Homo sapiens: one gene and its partner. The protein of the gene in region 1 interacts with the protein of each later gene in a pairwise test. Each region holds a gene or a part of one and is shown on either strand. Other genes may lie near its edges. The genes, in order: CA14 and ZNF273.

What was found.
Region 2: the proteins of CA14 (region 1) and ZNF273 interact in a two-hybrid assay, tested with the Homo sapiens proteins (one large-scale study listed by BioGRID and IntAct).

What each region holds. Positions count from the first base shown.
Region 1 is NC_000001.11:150,262,882-150,265,606, forward strand, and holds the end of CA14 (carbonic anhydrase 14 precursor), read left to right. Parts: intron 1-160; coding exon 161-318; intron 319-417; coding exon 418-538; intron 539-777; coding exon 778-798; intron 799-912; coding exon 913-997; intron 998-1,711; coding exon 1,712-1,778; coding exon of another isoform or gene 1,779-1,809; 3' UTR 1,810-2,197; downstream 2,198-2,725. UniProt on the Homo sapiens protein: Reversible hydration of carbon dioxide.
Region 2 is NC_000007.14:64,909,537-64,913,358, forward strand, and holds part of ZNF273 (zinc finger protein 273), read left to right. Parts: intron 1-3,822. UniProt on the Homo sapiens protein: May be involved in transcriptional regulation.

The DNA of each region.
Region 1 (2,725 bases):
AAATCTATAGCAGGAAGTAAGATTAGACTTTCAAAAACTATCCTTAAAAGCCTTGGGATGAAGCAATTACATAGAGCCAAGGAATTTTGCTTCTGGGAGCCCTATCTAGGTAAGCTAGGGCACACTGAAAGGAAGATGAGTCCCAGTCTGTTCTCCCCAGATCAGAAGACCTCAGTGCCTCCCTTCAACCTAAGAGAGCTGCTCCCCAAACAGCTGGGGCAGTACTTCCGCTACAATGGCTCGCTCACAACTCCCCCTTGCTACCAGAGTGTGCTCTGGACAGTTTTTTATAGAAGGTCCCAGATTTCAATGGAACAGGTAAGTGGTGGAGAAACGAGGTGAGGTGAGACACAGTTGTAACTTCAGACCCCTTCCCACTCCCCAAAGTAACACCTCTCCCACGCTTCTGCTCCTCAGCTGGAAAAGCTTCAGGGGACATTGTTCTCCACAGAAGAGGAGCCCTCTAAGCTTCTGGTACAGAACTACCGAGCCCTTCAGCCTCTCAATCAGCGCATGGTCTTTGCTTCTTTCATCCAAGGTGATTCTGCACGGCTCAGAAGAGATGGGAAACTGAGGGGGACACAATGGCAGGAACTAGGGAGCCAATGGGAAGAAAAGGCTAAAAGGGGAGGGGGTTTCTGGGACTTGCTTGGACTGGGAACCAACCCCCACCCCAGGGTGCCCCCGGGGGATTCTCCCAGGCACAGCAGCAGAGAGTGCTGCTCCCAGCTGGGATGGGGATCTGAAGTCCCACTGACCCATTTTCTTCTCTTACAGCAGGATCCTCGTATACCACAGGTAAGCCAGCCTTATAAGATAATGCGGGGAGGGGAGGTGTCCTCACCGAGTGGGGGAAAGGCTCAAAATCTATGTTAGTCCTAGGCTGACACCTTTTACCTTTATCTCCCCCAGGTGAAATGCTGAGTCTAGGTGTAGGAATCTTGGTTGGCTGTCTCTGCCTTCTCCTGGCTGTTTATTTCATTGCTAGAAAGATTCGGTGAGGCCCTACTTTCCATTCCTCCAGTCCCTTCTTCTTTTTTTTTTTTTTTTTGGTAGGTGGGAGACGGAGTCTTGCTCTGTTACTCAGTCTGGAGTGCAGTGGTGTGCAATCTCAGCTCACTGCAACCTCTGCCTTCTGGGTTCAAGCAATTCTCCTGCCTCAGCCTCCCGAGTAGCTGGGACTACAGGCACGCACCATCACACCCAGCTAATTTTTGTACTTTTAGTAGAGACAAGGTTTCACCATATTGGCCAGGCTGGTCTCAAACTCCTGACCTCAGGCAATTCGCCTGCCTCAGCCTCCCAAAGTACTGGGATTATAGGCATGAGCCACCCGCTTTTTGAGACAGGTTCTCACTGTTGTCGAGGCTGGAGTGCATGGCTTTATCACAGCTCACTGCAACCTCCACCTCCCGGGCTCAAGTGGTCCTCCCACCTCAGCCTCCTGAGTAGGTGGGACTACAGGCATGTGCCACCATGCCCAGATAATTTTTGTATTTTTAGCAGAGACGGGTTTTCACTACATTGCCCAGGCTGGTCTCCAACTCCTGACCTCAAGTGATCCGCCCGCCTCAGCCTCCCAAAGTGCTGGGATTATAGGTGTGAAACACCTTGCCCAGCCCTCTTTTCTGTTAAAAAGCATTCTCCTATTTCACCTCTAATCTGCTTCACTTAGATAGCAGTCATTCTCATGAGCCATTCCCCTTTCCAGGAAGAAGAGGCTGGAAAACCGAAAGAGTGTGGTCTTCACCTCAGCACAAGCCACGACTGAGGCATAAATTCCTTCTCAGATACCATGGATGTGGATGACTTCCCTTCATGCCTATCAGGAAGCCTCTAAAATGGGGTGTAGGATCTGGCCAGAAACACTGTAGGAGTAGTAAGCAGATGTCCTCCTTCCCCTGGACATCTCCTAGAGAGGAATGGACCCAGGCTGTCATTCCAGGAAGAACTGCAGAGCCTTCAGCCTCTCCAAACATGTAGGAGGAAATGAGGAAATCGCTGTGTTGTTAATGCAGAGAACAAACTCTGTTTAGTTGCAGGGGAAGTTTGGGATATACCCCAAAGTCCTCTACCCCCTCACTTTTATGGCCCTTTCCCTAGATATACTGCGGGATCTCTCCTTAGGATAAAGAGTTGCTGTTGAAGTTGTATATTTTTGATCAATATATTTGGAAATTAAAGTTTCTGACTTTAATTCTGGCCTATCCTTTGAGGCTCTTGAGGGTGGGCAAGTTCCTGAATCCCTCAGGTGGTAAAGATGGGCAAAGGATGGGGAAAAGAAGCATGGGTGATTAACTCCTTTTATCCCACCCCTGGAAGGAAAGATAAGCTTCTGGGAAGACACTTAACCCAAAGTTTCAGACATGTTAAACCACTAGCCCAGATTTCTGCCCTTGCACCAAGGCTATGCTTGGAAATCAGTGGTTGCCAGGTTAGGAAAGTGGCTGGATGAGAGATCTGAGGACAGAAATCTCAATTAACATGCTATCCCCTCCCTTAAAAGCCAAGTTCCCCCACAATTACAAATTCTTTTTTATTAGTCAAAATCACAATCACCTTGATTAAAAGGATGGGACACTCCACCCTCAGCAGAAAATGATACAGTTTATAGAAAACCTCCCCGCCCCTCCCACACCCCAATTAAAAACTACAAAAAAATCTCCCCTCCTTCCCTACGATGTCATGGTAGTCTGACTCCTCCAGTGGCACTGCAGCTCTGGAG
Region 2 (3,822 bases), on another chromosome or scaffold:
TTCTTTATCCGGTCTACTATTGATAGACATTTAGGTTGCTTCCATGTCTTTGCTCACAAGTACTATTGTGTATAGTGCTGCAATGAACATGCATTTGCATGTGTCTTTATAATAGAATAATTTATATTTTGGGGGGTATATAGAGTATTTTTGGGGTATTCAGGTTGCTGAATCAAATGGTAATTTTGATTTTAGTTCTTTGAGAAATCATCACACTGCTTTCACAGTGGTTGAACTAATTTATACTCCCACTAACAGTGTATAAGTATTCTTTTTTTTTTGCAGCCTTGCAAGCATCGTTTTTTTTTGTTTGTTTGTTTGTTTTTGTCTTTTTATTAATAGCCATTCTGACTGGTATGAGATTGTATCTCACTGTGGTTTTTCTTTACGTTTCTCTAATGATTAATAATGAGCATTTTTTAATATGCTTGTTAGCCACATGTGTGTCTTCTCTTGAAGAACATCTGTTCATGCTTTTTTCCTAGTTTTTTTTTTCTGGCAAACTTGCTTAAGTTCTTTATTAATTTTGGATATTAGACATTTGGCAGAAGCATAGTTTGCAGATATTTTCTATTGTTCTGTAGGTTGTCTTTTTACTCTGTTGATAGTTTCCTTTGGTGTGAAGAAGCTCTTTAGTTTAATTAGGTCTTATTTGTCCATTTCTGCTTTTGTTGCAATTGCTTTTGGTATCCTCAACATGAAATATTTGCCAGTTCCTATATCTAGAATGGTCTTTCCTAGGTTATCTTCCAGGGCTTTTGTATAATTTTAAGTTTCAAATTTAAGTCTTTAATTTATCTTGAGTTGACTTTTGTATGTAGTGTAAGGAAGGGGTCCAGTTTCAATCTTATACATAGTACTAGCTAGTTATTCCAGCACCATTAAACAGGGAATTCTTCCCACATTCCTCTTGTCAGCTTTGTAGAAGATCAGATGGTTGTAGGTGTGTGGCATTATTTCTGGGCTCTCTGTCCTGTTGCATTGGTCTATGAGCCTGTTTTTTGTTTTGTTTTGTTTTGTACCAGTACCATGCTGCTTTGGTAACTGTAGCCTGGTAGTATAGTTTGAAGTCTGGTAATGTAATGACTCCAGCTTTGTTCTTTTTGCTTAAGATTGCCTTGGCTATTCAAGTTTTGTTTGTTTTTGTTTCATATGAATTTTAAAATAGTTTTTTTTTCTGTTAAGAATCTTTTTGGTAATTTGATAAAATAGCATTAAATCTGTAATTTATTTTTTTTTTTTTTTTGAGACGAAGTTTTGTTTTTATTGCCCAGGCTGGAGTGCAATGGTGCAATCTCGACTCACTGCAACCTCCGCCTCCTAGGTTCAAACAATTCTCCAGCCTCAGCCTCCTAAGTAGCTGGGATTACAAGCATGCACCACCATGCCTGGCTAATTTTTCTATTTTTAGTAGAGATGGGGTTTCGTCGTGTTGGCCAGGTTGGTCTCAAACTCCTGACCCCAGGTGATCCACCCACCTCGGCTTCCCAAAGTGCTGGGATTACAGGCGTGAGTGAGCCACTGCACTGGGCTAAAGTGTGTACCTTTAATGCCTAGTTTGTTGAAGGTTTTTTACATGAAGTATGTTAAATTTTATCAAAAGCTTTCTCTGCAGCTATTGAGATAATCTTGTGGGTTTTGTCTTTAGTTTTGTTTATGTGATAAATAGCATTTATTGATTTGTGTATGGTGAACCAACTTTGCATTTTAAAGACAAAGCCTACTTGATTATAGTGAACTAGCCTTTTTTTTTTTTTTGAGATGGAGTTTCACTCTGGTTGCAATGGCATGATCTCAGCTCACTGCAGCCTCTGCCTCCTGGGTTCAAGTGATTCTCCTGCTCCAGCCTCCCAAATAGCTGGGATTACAGGCATGCGCCACCATGCCTGGCTAATTTTGTATTTTTAGTGGAGACAGGGTTTCTCCATGTTGGTCAGGCTGGTTTCGAACTCCCGACCTGAGGTGATCCACCCGCCTTAGCCTCCCGAAGTGCTGGGATTACAGGTGTGAGCCACTGTGCCTGGCCAAGTTATTTGTATTTTTGTATGTTCAGTGGTAATGTTCATTTTGTCATTTCTAATTGTATTTATTTGAATCGTCATTAATCTCGCTATTGGTTTATTTTATTAATTTTTTCAAAGTTTTAACTTCTGAATTTCTTAATATTTTGTATAGTTTTTTTATGTCTAAATCTCCTTCAGTTCACATCTGATTTTAGTTTTTTCTTGTCTTCTGCTAGTTTAGGGATTTGCTCTTCTCTTATTCTTTTATTTGTGATATTAGGTTGTTAAATCGAGATCTTTCTAACTTTTTGATGTGAGCATTTAATGGCATAAATTTCCCTCTTAACACTGCCTCAGCTGTGTTCCAGGGATACTGGTATGTTGTATTTTTGCTCTCATTTGTTTCAAAAAACTTCTTGATTCCTGTCTCAATTCCATTATTTACCCAAATATCATTCAAGTGCAGGTTAAGTTCCACGTAATTGTATGGCTCACCGTAAACTCTGCCTTCTGCGTTCAAGCGATTTTTGTGCCTCAGCCTACCTAGTAGCTGGGATCACAGGTGCCCGCCACCATACTCAGCTAATTTTTCTAATTTTAATAGAGTCGACGTGGTTTCACCATGTTGGCCAGGCTGGTCTTGAACAGATCTGAGGTGATTCGCCCGCCTCGGCCTCCCAAAGTATGGGGATTACAGGCGTGAGCCACCATGCCTGGCCATTTATGTTGTTTTTAGTTGGAGAGTTCTGTAGATTTCTATTAGGATTATTTGATCAAGTATTGAGTTTAGGTCCTAATATCTTTGTTAATTTCCTGCCTCAATAATCTGTCTAATAGTGTCTGTGGGGTGTTGTTTTCTTCCACTATTACTGTGCTAGAATCGAAGTCTCTTCATAGGTTTCTAAGAACTTGCTTTATTCATGTGCACTCATGAATAACACCTCTTTTCTTCTGTTCCCCCCACCCCATAAACATTCTTTAAAGTGCACACAGTGTGCCCAAGGCTACTCCTTAGATGCCTGAATCCAGTTATCTACTGAGTTCAGATGTCCAAGAGTTCAAGAGCATGTCCTGAGACCTGGCTGTTGTAGGAGAAAATATAAATTAGAAATAAGAGGCTTTATGATTCTGTTTCCTGAAAATAAGGGAGAATATTTTGCTCTTCTCTGTTTTCTTAAAGCATTTAGATTATATGTAGATATTTTTCTGCTTTTTTGAATATATGTAAATCATATGAACAGCTAAATAAACCCTTTGTTTTTCTTTTTGACTCAGGATTCATTTTAGTTTTTTTTTTTTTTTTTTTTGAGATTGAGTTTCGCTCTGTCATCCAGGCTGGAGTGCAGTGGTGCGATCTTGGCTCACTGCAACCTCCGCCTCTTGGGTTCAAGTGATTCTCTTGTTTTAGCCTCCCAAGTAGCTGGGACTACAGGTGTACACCACCATGTCCAGCTAATATTTGTATTTTTAGTAGAGATGAGGTTTCGCCATGTTGGCCAGGCTGGTCTCGAACTCCTGACCTCAGGTGATCTATCCACCTGCCTTGACCTCCCAAAGTGCTGGGATTACAGGCCTGAGCCACTGCACCCGGCCAGCAACTTATTTTCTATTCTTGCAGATCCAGTGATTGTTTCACAAGTCACAAAAAAGTAAATATAAACACAATAAAAATTCCTTTAAACTACATTGAAATTTTCCTTTCTGTGTCTCTCTCATCTGTCTATATTTTGTTTTTATTCTATGCATTTTTTAAAAAATCAGTGACAGAGAAACAGAAGAAGAAGTAAAAATGCTGGGCCCTTCATTTAAATCCTGGGAA